Homo sapiens: one gene and its partner. The protein of the gene in region 2 interacts with the protein of the main gene of each other region in a biochemical or structural test. Each region holds a gene or a part of one and is shown on either strand. Other genes may lie near its edges.

Evidence for each region.
Region 1: the proteins of TRIM35 (region 2) and PKM form a complex in vitro, tested with the Homo sapiens proteins (one study listed by BioGRID).

Annotation. Positions count from the first base shown.
Region 1 is NC_000015.10:72,221,162-72,228,633, forward strand, and holds part of PKM (pyruvate kinase PKM), read right to left. Parts: exon of another isoform or gene 7,466-7,472; coding exon of another isoform or gene 7,416-7,465; intron 1,411-7,415; exon of another isoform or gene 1,393-1,410; coding exon of another isoform or gene 1,289-1,392; intron 124-1,288; coding exon of another isoform or gene 7-123; intron 1-6. UniProt on the Homo sapiens protein: Catalyzes the final rate-limiting step of glycolysis by mediating the transfer of a phosphoryl group from phosphoenolpyruvate (PEP) to ADP, generating ATP.
Region 2 is NC_000008.11:27,294,081-27,301,552, forward strand, and holds part of TRIM35 (E3 ubiquitin-protein ligase TRIM35), read right to left. Parts: intron 4,480-7,472; coding exon 4,384-4,479; intron 231-4,383; coding exon 1-230. UniProt on the Homo sapiens protein: E3 ubiquitin-protein ligase that participates in multiple biological processes including cell death, glucose metabolism, and in particular, the innate immune response.

The DNA of each region.
Region 1 (7,472 bases), on a different chromosome or scaffold from region 2:
TCATACCTTTGGTTCTCTGGGGTTGGGCTTCCGGTGACATAATGCTCCCCTTTTGGCTCAGGGTGGCTCCTTGGCCTCACTAGCAAAGACCGCTCAGAGCTGAATACGGTGTGCCCTGGAGAGCTGCACAAGGATTAAGGAAAAAGCTGAGTGTAACTAAAGCTCTTTGGGGTAATGGAAAAATTACCTTAATAACCAGGTATCCAGGTGACAGCTGCTCTAGAGATTCCACTGTTATGTCTCTTTAAACCTGTGATTTACTAACATTCCACTATTCTATACAAGAACCTGGTCCCTCCCCTTTTGGGAGCGGGGAAGGGACACCAAATTAAACATACCTAAAAGACCTGGGAGGATATATACTGAAATTTTAATAGGACGTCATTGGGGTGGTAGGATTACAGAAAAAAAAAAATCCTCTTTATTAACAAATTTACTGATATAAATATAAAAATACTTTTATAGTAAGAAATTATGTGTACCTCTTTTGGAAATATTTATATGCATCCTATAAAATTGTTGGGAGGAAGTAAATGAAATGTGAAGACACCAATTCCATTAATCAATTGCTGCTCTATGCACTTCAAGAATAATCTGCTTTTAAAAGGTGGCAGAGAAAAGACGCATGTCTCAAGTTCTGTACACTGGGTTGTGATTAAAAAAAAAAAACGATACAAGTCTTAGGCCCTACATCACAAATGTACTGCAGAACAGTTTCAACGGCTTAAGAAGGTCAACCTTAATACATTCAGAACCTCAAAGCAAAAAAAAAAAAAAAAAAGTCCACAGGATAATCCCATGCCTCAAACCTGTTAGTTACATGCCCAAATCCAGCAAACTAGTTTGTTCTCAAGCTTTACAGTAAAAGCTTTTGACAATGTTCTGGTACAGAAGGGCTGCCTCCAAGTCCACGAGATGCCATTAGCAGATAAAATTATATTGGCCTCAAACACAAACCCTATTTCAACTATCTCAAATTAAATCTGATGCCTATAAGCTCTAATTTTTTGCCAATAAGTACAAAAATGACAAATGAAAATTTCTATAGTGGATTTACGCATTAGCAGTCAAAAAAAGCTTGCTTGTCAGCAAGTTCATCCAGACTCCAGATCTCATGTGTCCTTCATGCTCTCTACCCAGCCAGAGACCTCATATCTCATGCCCAGGTCTTTCCTCAGGCTCTGACCTGAAGCCTCCCTTGCAGGGAGGGCCAGAGCTCTCCTGCCTTCTCCAAAATCCTCCACAAGCCTCTTCCCAGCACAAACTGCCCATCCCACCAACCACGTACCTAGAGTTGTATGTAAAACACTCACTGGACTCCCCTGGCTCCAGGAGAGCAGCCCAGCCTTGGTTTCTCAGGGCGGACTTCTGGGAAAGACTCCTCTCCCTCATGCCAGCTGCCTGGACAGTGCCTGCCAGGACATGTGGCCCCACCCATGCCAGTCTGACTCACTATTGCATCCTCCTCCTAGGAAGGCACAGACATGCAGAGCCAACCTCCAGCCAGCAGTGGAAGCCTGGCGTATCCACTGATAGCAGCACACACCATGCCCAGGTCCAGGAGCCTTATTCTTGAGCCCGAGCCCCTGCAGTAAGATCTTCCTCAGAGCCATGTCTCCTCTGTGAGAAAGGAGACACCATCTCTAAGAGGCCTTAGTCTGGAGTGACAGGTTGGAACAGGCACAATCACAGCTCAGCTCCAAGTGCCCTATTCTCCCTTTCCTTTCTCATCTCAGACAGCTCCTGGCTTTTTATATTAGTTTCCTTTGTGTCAGACACAATTTTTTGGCCATTCTTCAGAAACCAGGAGACAAAAATCATAAAAAATACCCAACACTCCTCCCTCCAACTTTTTTTTTTTCTTTTTTTTTTTTTTCAGACAGGGTTTCACTCTGTCACCCAGGCTGGAGTGCAGTGGTGTGATTATATTATATTATAGCTCACTGCACCCTCAAACGATCCTCCAGCCTCAGCATCCCAAGTAGCTGGGACTACAGGCACGAACCACACCCAACTCCCATGCTCCACTTCTTAGGGCCAGGACTGTTGTTGGGTTGTGCTGGGAAAGATTCACGCTTCACTCCACCAATTCTTCCACAAAGGACCAAATCATTCTGCCCTAATAAAATAGCCTGGCCCGTGAGTCTGCATCTGCCTAAGTCATTTTTCCTTTGTACCAATTATGCTCCGATACCAACCTCATCACATAGATCAACTATAAAATGATGGCACCTGATGCTCACTTTCTCCCTCCAACGTTGCCAGTAGGTACCCAAGATTGTGTTCCTTCCTGTGACGTCAGTTTGCTACCTACACCTCCAAGCCATCATGAAGGCGTTTCGATCCACAACTCTTCCGAACACCTGCATCCGTTAGAAAGTCTGCATCATGATACGCTGGCATTCAGGTCAGCCTGCTCTCTAGTTCTCTTCCTCAACAATGGAAATGGAGTTTCTAAGATTTGCCCTAATCAAACTAGGCCAGCAACATGATCAAAATGGGTGACGGGCCAGCAGAACCTAGTAAGGTCTGGAATAGGCACTGTTCATCTTCATCTATAGTTAAGGGTAATGACAATAATGTATTTGCATATGGGTGCAGGATACAGAGGATAAGATATCTTCTAGCTAAGAGACCTGGGTCTTAAGCCCACACTTTAACCCCAGGAGGCCCCACAGCAGAAAGCAGTATGGTGTTACCAGGCTACACAGAACAAAATGAGCCCACTTGTAGGTTCTAGTAAAATTCCCTGGCTTTAAAAAAAAAAAAAAAATCTTGGCTCTTTTATTTCTTCGGGGCTGAAAGTAAATGACTTGTCAACAGGAACCTAAGGTCCTATTTCCAACTAGAGTGTGGAATAGGGAAGAGCAGCTGATGCTAAATGGGCCTACTTCCCTCAAAGACCACTCAACTTCAGGTGAAGAAGCCCTAAGTCAGAGACCCCTCAATGTCCTCAGATGCCGAGGATTTCCTGGTTCCATCCCAGCTGCTCAGTGCAGAGAACTGGTTTCAGCCTGAAGGAGGTGGTTTGGGGGAAGCATTAGTTGTCCTGGGACATGGTGCCTCCTTACTAGGATTAAAAGTAGGGCGGTGTTTCTGGGTATGATATCCACACTCTAAAATCAGCAAGGGACCTGGGACCCTGATTTAGGGTCCTCTTAAGTGCAACTAAGGTGGGTGATGGCCTCAGCAAAGTGAGGCACTGGCTCAACATTTACTGGAAGGGCTGCCCTGCATTCTAGTCGGGGGGATAAAGGAGGAAAGGCAGTGCCAACTCTCCAAGAGCACTGAACTAGTTACTATGACTGGTCTTCCTACGGCAGCCTTTATAGGTTTGCTTCTATGTTACGAATTAAAGAAAAAAAAGTTTTAACATCTGCCTCTCTACCACCCAGAACTGACCATTAACACTGAGCCATGGCTGGCTGTGTTGGCTCACGCCTGTAATCCCAACAGTTTGAAAGGCTGAGGCGGGCAGATCACTTGAGGCTAAGAGTTCGAGACCAGCCTGGCTAATATGGTGAAACACCATCACTACTAAACATACAAAAATTAGCCAGGCGCGCACCTGTAATCCCAGCTACTTGGGTGGCTGAGACACAGAATTGCTTGAATCCAGGAAGTGGAGGCTGCAGTGAACGGAGATCGCACCACTGCCCTCCAGCCCGGGCAACAGAGTGAAAAACTCTGTCTCAGAAAAAAAGGAAAAAAAAAAAAACACAAATAAAGGCTGAGCTGTATTTTCTTTAATTTCTTTTTTCTTTTTTTTTTTTTTTTTGAGATGGAGTCTCGCTCTGTTGCCCAGGCTGGAGTGCACTGGCGCGATCTCAGCTCACTGCAAGCTCCACCTCCCAGGTTCAGGCCATTCTCCTGCCTCAGCCTCCTGAGTAGCTGGGACTACAGGCGCCCGCCACCAGGCCCGGCTAATTTTTTTTTTTTTTTTTTTTTGTATTTTTAGTACAGACGGGGTTTCACCGTGTTAGCCAGGATGGTCTCAATCTCCTGACCTCGTGATCCGCCCACCTCAGCTTCCCAAAGTGCTGGGATTACAGGCATGAGCCACTGTGCCCGGCCCTCTTTACTTTCTAAAAACAAAAACAAGAATTTTAATTTTATACAGTTCATTTTTTCTCCATCCCCAAGCTCCTCCAACCCTTTCCACCTCCATCTTAAACTTTTTTTTCTATTTTATTTATTTAAATAGAGATGGGAATCTTGCGATGTTGCCCAGGCTGGTCTCGACCTCCTGGCCTCAAGTGATCCTCCTGCATCAGCCTCTCAAAGTGCTGGGATTACAGGTGTGAGCCACTGCTCCCAGCCACATCATGCATTTTGACACCCAATCACTGTCATGAACTCTATATCCTTCCAGTTCACTGAAGTCTATGTACAGTGTATCTATGTCTATACTGAACCCTATAATATTGTGGTTTTCTTAATGCCCTAAGTGGTATACTGTATATATCACTGAGTAACTTGTTTTTCACTCAGCAGCACATTTAAGATCCATCCAGTGGGTATATGGATCTAGCTAATTCATTTAAGCTGTTACACTAGTCCACTGTACAACAGACCATTTTATTTATGGACTGTCTTACTGGTGGCCACTCTCCCTCCCCGTTAAACTAAGTTTCTTCTATTAATCAATACTCTTGTAGTACATGTCTCCCTGTACTGTGTGAGTTTCTATATATCCAGAAATTGAAGTCTTAGGTCATGGAGTATGTTTATTTCTATTTTTACTAAATAAGGCTGAATTGCTCTCCAAAGTGGCTATATCAATGAACGCTGAGTTGCTGCCTTCCACACCTTTTTCCACACTTGGTACTGCCAGACTTTTTAAATGTTTGCCCATCGGTGACATTTGTTTTTCTGCTCATCTAATGTTAATAACCAAAGAGGGATACCCAGATAGTTTCAACGTTTACAACATCTCTATTTCCCTGCTTAACTCAATCAAATCTCCTCTGAAATGGCATGGTGGACACAGTGTGTCTTATGTGCCCTGACTGACTCCACTGATGGGCAGTTCTTTTTCGTTCATGGCCAAGGGAGATATCAGTTGTTTAAAATTGAAGAAACATGGCCAGGCGCGGTGGCTGATGCCTGTAATCCCAGCACTTTGGGAGGCCAAGACAGGTGGATCACGAGGTCAGCAGACTGAGACCATCCTGGCTAACACAGTGAAACCCCGTCTCTACTAAAAAATACAAAAAAAATCAGCCAGGCGTGGTTGCGGTTGCCTGTAGTCCCAGCTACTCAGGAGGCTGAGGCAGGAGAATGGCATGAACCCGGGAGGCGGAGCTTGCAGTGAGCTGAGATTGCACCACTGCACTCCAGCCTGGGTCATGGTGCGAGACTCCGTCTCAAAAAAATAAAATAAAATAAAATAAAATAAAAAATGAAGAAACATTATCTGCAAGTAAACTGAAGATGTTTGGAAGGGATAGGACTCCCTTCAGAGAATCTTGACTGCAGTATTCAGCCAGCAGCTGTGCTGGTCCACAGTGTGAAATGCTAGGACTGGCAACCTCACTGCCCTTGAATAACTGGTCTTGGCATCTCTCCCACTGCAGCCCCAGCCTGCTTCCAAGACTGCTTGCTGGCATGAGGAAAGAGGCTTAGGGCTCCCCAGGAGCTTTGTCTATGGACAGAAGTGGGGGAGGTGAGTCTCAGAGGCCACCGAAGGTACTGCAGCCGGCTTGTTCCCTCCTACGTGCAGACAAGCACAAACCACTGCAGGGGCGGGGCTTCACCGCACTGCATGGTAGGGGCCCTAAAGCACCCAACTCCTGAGCTGAGCAGTCATACCAAGAGGCAGGAAGGCCCAGCAGATGCTGCACATCACCCTCCACCACTCACCCAGGCTCACCTTCCCCCAACAGCTTCTTTAACAAAGTCCCAAGTATTTAAATTACTCAATTATCCAGTCTGCCCCTTGGTAAAAAAATGCAAGCTCCCCGCAAGTATGGTGGTATCAAAAATGGTCTTCATATATCTGGTTGTTTAGCTCTATTCCCATCTGTATCAGAACTGATGCTTAAAGGGACAACTTAAAATCCTTAAGACCTCATACCAAATAAACCAATCTCACGAAGACCCTTGAAGATGCAATAAAACTCTGCTCACAGGGTCAACGCATTCTTGTGTTATACCAGCTAATTGAGATTTGACTGTGGACTTTTGGAGTGATTCAGAAAGAAGGGTAATGTCAAATGAGTCATTTTCCTCTACTCCGGTCTCAGTCTTAGCTCTTGGCCAAGATAACACATCCTGACTTGCCTTCATAAAAGCTGAAGCAGGCCAGGTGCAGTGGCTCACGCCCGTAATCCCGGCACTTTGGGAGGCCGAGGCCGGTGGATCACCTAAGTCAGGAGTTCAAGACCAGCCTGGCCAACATGGTGAAACCCCATCTCTACTAAAAATACAAAAATATTAGCTGGGCGTGGTGCAAGTGCCTGTAATTCCAGCTACTTCGGGAGGCTGAGGCAGGAGAATTGCTTGAACCCAGGAGGTGGAGGTTGCAGTGAGCCGAGATCACACCATTGCACTCCAGACTGGGCAACAAGAGCAAAACTATCTCAAAAAAAAAAAAAAAAAAAAAAAAAAAAAACAAAAAACTGAAGCAAAATAAACTAAAACCCAAGTAAAGTGAGTTTGTAATGTAAGTGCTGCATTTTCTTCTACCTTCCTGCCCACGGCCGTTTCCTCATTTCTTCCATTGCCTCAATATTAAGAAATAAACAGCTTTAGGAAATAAAATGGTTTTTCCTGTGACCCCACATCAGTGTCACAACATTCAAGGCACAGAAGCAACTCCCATAAAGTGCTAGCTGTTTAGAGTCACCGCCACCAAATTTGCTAAGTCACTGGGGGTACGGTTCTTAAAGAGCTAATGATGCTCTTTGCTAAAATATGAATACAACATTATTTCTAATGCAATGCTTAAAATGAAAGCAGTTGTGCTAGACAGGAGACCAACATCCATACATTTTGGCTCAAGTCAGTAACTGAGAAATGAGTTCAAGAACCTTCTTTAAGTCATCATTAATCAAGTCCCAGGAGAGGCGGCTGTGCCCGCTACAAAAGGGCCAGGAATGAAGCTGCACAGACGGCATTAGCTGGGCACCGGGCTCTGCCAGTCTACACTTAAGCTCTTAAGGCAGTACAGAGAACCAGGTGACCCGGACCAATCATTTTTTAATTAGTTGTGGCTTTTTTTTTTTTTTTTTTTGAGAAGGAGTCTCGCTCTGTCGCCCAGGCTGGAGTGCAGTGGCGCGATCTCGGCTCACTGCAAGCTCCGTAGTTGAGGCATTTTTAATTAGGGGAAATGCATGCTTCATTATCTGACTCACTGAAAGGGGAGAAGGGACTTTTTAAGCCTGCAAGAACCACAATGTAGTTTCCCCACTCACCCAGCGAAGATAATTCTCTCAAAAGCAGAATAATTGAAAGGTTGAGTCATCTTCCCC
Region 2 (7,472 bases):
ATGAGAAAAGAAACGTCGTCCTCCTTCATCTCCATCTGCAGCCGCTCGATCTCATGTGCCAGCACCTCCGTCTCCTCTGTGAGCTGCTTCATCTTCTCGTCGGCCAGAAGTTGCTTCTGCCTTGTCTCCTCGGCCATGGCATCCAGAATGGCCTGCTCCTCCACTCTCAAGAACTCGCGAAGCTTATCAAACTCCTGCCGGATCCGGCCTTCCAGCCATGCAGCCTCCACCTACGGAAGACAGCAGGAGGAGTCAGGGGTCAGATGTGGAGAGGACATCCATAGCCCAGCAACTTTCCCATTTTTAGCAAAGGAAATTTATGTTCAAATAAATCATGTATAGAACCCCTACAGATAAAATATCAACATAATAGTTTATAAGCACAAATTTCTAAGTTCCGATTTCAAATGGGAAAGTCCAACAACCTAATATTAGATTGTTTTGACAGGGTTTTTAAAAATAAAATCACAGCTTATATAGATGGCAACTGTAGTACTATAACCTCATCTACATACAATGTTCAGTTCCTTCTTTAGGTTGCACCATAACAAGGGAAGTCCTGAATCATAGAAATGAATGGCTGCGAATAGCAATGATTTTTTTTTAAGTATTTACCTTCCAATCTTAGGACTTAAAATTTGTCTGATCCAGAGGCTTTACCAAAAGAGCAGTAGGAAGCATTCATTTTAAAACAATCATTAAAATAATATACACACTCCAAATCACAACCACAAAAAGTTTGTTTTTTTTTTTCTTTTTGAGACTAAGTCTCGCTCTTTCACCTAGGCTGGAGTGCAGTGGTGTGATCTTGGCTCACTGCAACCTCTGCCTCCTGGGTTCAAGCAATTTTCCCTGCCTCAGCCTCCCGAGTAGCTGGGACTACAGGCACACGCCACCACGCCCAGCTAATTTTTGTATTTTTTAGTAGAGATGGGGTTTTGCCACGTTGGTCAGGCTGGTCTCAAACTCCTGACTTAAGGTGATCTGCCCGCCTCGGCCTCCCAAAGTGCTGGGATTACAAGCGTGAGCCACTGTGCCCAGCCTCACAAAAAGTTTTTTAAAAGGGAAGATAAAACCATAAATGTAATGAAAGAAAAAGCAAATAAATATTTCTCAGCTTGGAATAAGAAAGACATTCCTCGGCACAGTATGAAACTGAGAAGCCTTGAAGAAAGAATGAGATAACTGAATACACAGAAAAATAAGAGGTGTGTATGGCAAGAGACTATCATAAAGTTAAAGACAAAAATACAATTCCATGACAACTGTTGGAAAAACCATTCAAAATGTGTGCTGTGGCAATGGCAGGTTAGTAAACTCATCTTTGGACTGAAAGTTAAATACAGATGCTCCTCAAGTTATGATGGGGTTACATCCCAATAAACCCATCATAAGTTGAAAAATAGTTAAGTCAAAGCAATGAATACACCTAACCTACTAAAAACATCATAGGTTAGCCTAGCCTACCTTAAACGTGCCCAGGACACTCACATTAGCCTACACTTGGGCAGAATCATCCAACACAAAGCCTATGTCATAATAAAGCACTGAGTGTCTCATGTAATTTATTGAATACTGTACTGAAGGGGAAAAACAGAATGGTTGTATGGGTACTCAAAGTACAGTTTCTACTGAATGCATATTGCTTTCGTACCACAGTAAAGTCAAAAAATCATAAGCCAGGGACTGTGTGTATGTTTACAGCTCTGAAAATATACGAAAAGGATTCACTGAAAAAATGAAAATGGCCAAAAAAATTGAGAATGATCCACTCAAAAAGAAATGACAAACTAGGAAATATATTTGCAACATTTATGACAAATGGCTATTATTATTAATGTACAAAGCACTCTTACAAATCCACTAAGAGAAAAGACAAATATTCCAAGGGAAAAAAAGAATGTGAATTAGCATTCACAGAAGAAGCATAAATGACTATTATGCTTGTGAAAAGATGTACAAACTTACCAATAATCAAAGAAATGCAAATGAGGACAAACAGCATGGTTAACCTATCAGGCTGAAAAGACTGATAATGTCTGCATTGGAGAGAGTAGAATCCAGGGTGATTCTCTTTTTTTTTTTTTTTTTTTACATTTAAGTTCCAGGATACATGTGCAGGACATGCAGGTTTGTTACATAGGTAAATGTGCGCCATGGTGGTCTGCTGCACCTGTCAACCCATCACCTAGGCATTAAGCCCCGCATGCATTAGCTATTTATCCTGATGCTCTCCCTCTCCCCAGTAATTCTTATCACACAAAAACATCAAGAACACAGCATGGCAGGAAAAACCAGCAAGTGCAAGGTCAACTCCTGCCCACTCACCGTGGGCAATGACGGCCTCACTGTAAAGGAACAAACACCAGAACTTTCACTTTCCTCATCGACCTGATAACTGAATTTAATAGAAAAAGTACTAATCAGGCTGGAATTCTAGGGGCTTCCCATGTGACCTCATTACCCTTAGCCTCAGCAAAAAGCTCAGGACTCCTACACTCCCTGGGATGGGCAGGCAGTGCCACCACACAGACAGACAGATACTCCCTAAGTATCCCCAACCCAGTCCTGTACAAGGCAAGCCAGTCATATGGCTTTAGCCACAGAAGGAAACCAAGTAAGAGAACAATGATAAAGCTACATGACTCCACGATGACTACTGGAAAAACAACTCAACAAACTCCAGCAACAGCAGGTTCGTAATCGCTATTTGGAGTTGGAATTTCAACATGTATTTATGGCTCTGACATCGGATGACAAAATAATCTACTGAACAAAGTGAAAACTCTCTCCCACCAGTTTGTTGGTCTATTAGACATCAGAAATGTTAAGGACTTGTCTCTGTTGGGCACTTGTATGCATTATCTTATCTAAATTTTTTTTTAAAAACCCTAGTAAAAGGGAATTGCCCTCTTTTTACAGAGGAGGGGATTAGCTTGGAGGGGGTTGAGGGATTTGCTGGGGAACTGGGCTTAGATTTGGAAATAGGTCTGCTTTGCGGTTACTGCCCTGGCACCCAGTGTGTCACATAATCCTTTCTTCCACACTGTTCCACCAGCTCTGTGGCTCAGGGTAAACTCCACAGCCAAATGTTAATGAGGCTCTTTCCTGGGACTAATCCTCACCTATGGACACATGGTGGAGGGGACCGCAGGCTCCTGAGGACAGCGCCCAGCAACCTGGACCAGGCATGGCTCAGCTGTGGCTAAGATGAGTCTAACAGAGTGGTAATTACTAGAAGCAACCACTTCAGAAAGCCAAAGACCAGAGCCAAGATCAACAGTCAGAAACAAGGTTGCCAATCCACACAGGACCTGGAGGAAGAGAGGGTGCCAGGCAGAACAACCAGAATGGGGACAGAGGGAGCCCACTCATTCATTTGATTAACAGTTATTGGTCACCTACCCACTTCACTCATTCAATCAACAATTTTTATTGGTCACCTATTGTGTGCCAAGAACTCCTCTAGATAACTGGCAATAGTGTGCCCTGTTTTCATTATATTTTGACAGGAAGGGATAAAAAGCAAATAGAAAACAAAAGGTAATTACAGGTAATGAAGTGTCATTAAGAAAATAAACCAGGAAATTATGCCATCGAGTAAAAGAGGAGGATGATCAGGAAAAGCTTCTTTAAGAGAACATCTGAGCTGAGATTTTAATGGCAAAGATGCTGGGCATGTGTTCTGGGGAGAAGACTTAGTTTGCTTAAGGGACAGAAAGAAGGTGAGGCAGAGAAGTAAATGAGGTTGAGGATAGGCAGGGTCAGGAGATGGCCTTGGAGGCCATGGTAAGGAATCTGGGTGGTACTGAGGGTGACTGGAAGCCACTGGCAGTTTTAAGCAGAGGAGGGGCACGGCTGGTGTTTTTTTCTAAACGATCACCCCAGTCCATGGAAAGGAGAATGCACAAGAATGAAAGCATGAGGCCCTAGGCAGGAGGCCCAGTGAGAGATGATGATGACCTGGACCAAAAGGTGGAGGGTTTTACAGAAATAACATACTTTGGAGATAGGGGAATAGGATTGCTGATGGAGTGGATGTGGGAACTGAAAGAAAACAAGAAAGTACATGAGTCCCAGGTCATCATTGAACACACAGGTGGCAGTGATATGATGCATGTGCCATAGTGCAGATGGTGTTGGTAGCTTTTTAAGTCACTCCTGTGGCTGCTGGCATGACCACGCCTGGGTCTTTAGAGGGGCCAAGGCAGAGAAGCCACAGTCAGCATCCAGGACGTGGCTGCACAGGACCATCAGAGGTAAGGCAGCCGACCTCTACCCAGCGGGTTATGTGAGCCAAAGCCACGGCTGACACATCTTCACTCCTCCCCAGACTGCCCTGAGTGGACCCAATCTTCCCACTTGGCCCCATCGTTCGCTCACCTGATTGTGCTTGGCGATGGCCTCATAGGAGCGCCGCATGGCCCAGAAGGCCTTGGCCTTCTCCCGCAGTGCATGCTCCATGTTCCTGCACTTGGCCTGACATGGGAATGAGAGAGAGGGAGGAAGACAGGTTAGGGCTGGAGGCTGGGCAGAGAGGGCAGACACATCACATTTACAACTGGGACTCCACTTCAACACAAGTGTAACTCAACTGCATTTGCCTAACCCCATCCATGCCAAGTGCTCTGGGCACAAATGGTAAGTAAGGTCCTGATCCTGAATCAGACATCCATGGGATAAAGAGCCCTCAGACATCCTGTAGCCCAGCCTGGTACAGACTGGGAGATGGGGCTGAGAAGAAGCAAGCTGCTCTCTCTCATGTTGGTCACAGCACAGGCCAGAAGAGTGTCCCATGTGGGCCAAAAGCTGGTTCATGCTGGGTCTGAATCCCTGAGCTGTGTGGACAACTGCAGACAGTGTGGTCATAGGTTCCCTCTGCAGTTTCCTAAACTGAATGGGTCTGCAATCTCTAATGTGAGGTGACTGACAATGGGGGTGGAGCCAGTCATTTCCCACGGGGTTCAGTTACCTCCCATGAGGCCTCACCTCAACATGCCCAACATGCCCCTCCATACCCCTCCTGCATCCTGACATTCTAACACTGCTTGTATCGCACGGAATACTTTAATCAGCAGGCACAAATACTTTTGGTTTAGTAGTTTTTGTTTCTTAAACTTTAATGATTGTTTCTGATGTCCTTGGACAACTTGAAGAACCACTAGAGTGTTTTAGGTTGGATTCCTGCCTCTTGTATCTTAGGCCTATCATTTTTTCTCCCTCATTATCCTTTTCGATCTACATTCTCAGAAAGCTTCTCAAGTTTTTTCTTAAGAAAAATAATTCAAATAATTATAAATGGTTATCATTTATTCAGTACTTACTCTGTGCCAGGGACAACACCAATTACTTGAGAAATTATGTCATTTAATCATTACTTCTCCCTAGTAGATAAGTAATATTATTGGCCCCATTTATAGATGAGAAAGTGAGGCACAGAAGGGAAATGACCAGCCCAAGGGCACACAGCTAGTATGTGGAAGGACGTGAACCTGGACAGCTATGGAGGCAGCTGCTGAGACAGCACCCAGTGATCCCTCCCTCCTGTGAGATGAGAGTGTTTTAAGCTGCTAAATGTCGGGGTGACTGGATATGCAGCAATAAATTATACAGATGTGTCGCCCAAAGCCTCATTCCCATCTGGACCTGATTTAGATGACAAATCTGGACTTTGGGCTGATGCTGTAAAGGGATGAGATGTTTGGAGAGCTTGGGAGAGGGCCAGTGCATTTTGCATGTGGGAGGGACATGACTCCTTATGGGGCAAAGGACAGATTCAGGCAGGCAGCCTCTAAAGTGGCCCCAGTGACCCTCACCTCCTGATACTCATGCTCTTGTGAAATCCCCTCCTCTGTGGGTGACTTGTTTCTAACCAAAAGAATGTGGCAAGTGATACTAAGTCACCTCTGAGGTTAGGCGACAAAGGCTGTGTACACCCTGCCTTCCTCTCTCTAGCTTGCTCACTGGGATGGTAGCCAGCTGCCCATGTGGTAATTTGCCCTGGGAGTGACTGCTGGGGCAAGAAACTGAGAGTGGCTTCTGACCTACAGCCAGTGAGGGACTCAGGCTCTCAGGCTAACAGCCCGTGAAGACCTGAATCCTGCCAACAACTACAAATGTGAGTGTAAATAAGGATCCTGCCCTAGCTGAGCCTTCAGATGAGACCACAGCTCCATACCTACAGCCCCTCATGACAGACCTTGAGGCAGAGGCACCCAGAGCTAAGGCAGGCCCAATTCCTGACCCACAGAAACTCAAAGATAATAAATGTTTGTTTTAAGGCACTAAGTTTTGGGCAATTTGCTAGGAAATAGAGAACTAGCCCATTGGTTAGAACTAGCCCACAGAACCCTGACTGCAGCCCCTCATGAGACACCTTGAGGCAGAGGCACCCAGAGCTAAGGCAGGCCCAATTCCTGACCCAAAGAAACTCAAAGATAATTAATGTTTGTTTTAAGGCACTAAGTTTTGGGGCAATTTGCTAGGAAATAGAGAACTAGCCCATTTGTCCCACTCAGTAGCCCATTCCTTTAAGTCTTTCACTACAGAAAACAAAATGGTTACTGATTTCATTTTCTGCAGTTCTGTTTTATTTTCAACTCATTTTGATCTTTTAATCTTAAGTGACAATATTTAAGATTTTTAAACTTTGTTTTCTGTAGTATATCATCTCTAATTTGCATGAGTGCCCCCACAAAACCACTGAAATGTCATTCCAATGTTTTATTTTATAGAATGAGATTTTTGATACAAAATCATGTAATACAGTTCAAAAGGAAAATTTAGTGATTTGCCAAATTAGTTAAGTGACAGGAGTGAAGCAGCTGTCCATACGCATTACCCAAAGGTGTGCAGGCCCCAAAACAACACAGTTCAGCCCCTGCCCTTCAACCCTGGCCCTTAGGAATTTATGGGACAATAAGGATGGGAAGGGGATAGTCCCTTGATCTTCTCAAACTTTTCAATCACTTGGAGAGTTCTGGTTTCCTTCAGAAAAGACCAATCCTAAAATGGCCCTTCTCTGAGATGTCAGCTGATGAGACTAACCAACAATTATATTACTATTGCTAGCAAGCAGTTACTATTAAGCATGTACTAGACACAAGGCACTAAATTATGCACTTTACAAACATTCTATTTAATTCAATTATTTAATTCGAATTCTCCCTATAAGGTTAAGCACTGTGAGTCCCATTATACAGAGGATCAAGTTAGACCCAGAGGAGGTAACCTTCTTGTACATGTCTCCTGGGGACACATGGGAACTCGTTTCTTCATAATATATTCCTGGGGATAAAACTGCTGGGCCACCATATGTGTCTTCACTTTACTGCGTAATGCCAAATTGTTTTCCAAAGCAGTGGTACCAATTTTTACAGCAAGAGCAATGTTAATAGAAAATGTTTATTGACCACTTCAATGTTTATTTTTAAGTACTCAGTAAAGTATTGTCCATTTTTCCATTGCGTTGC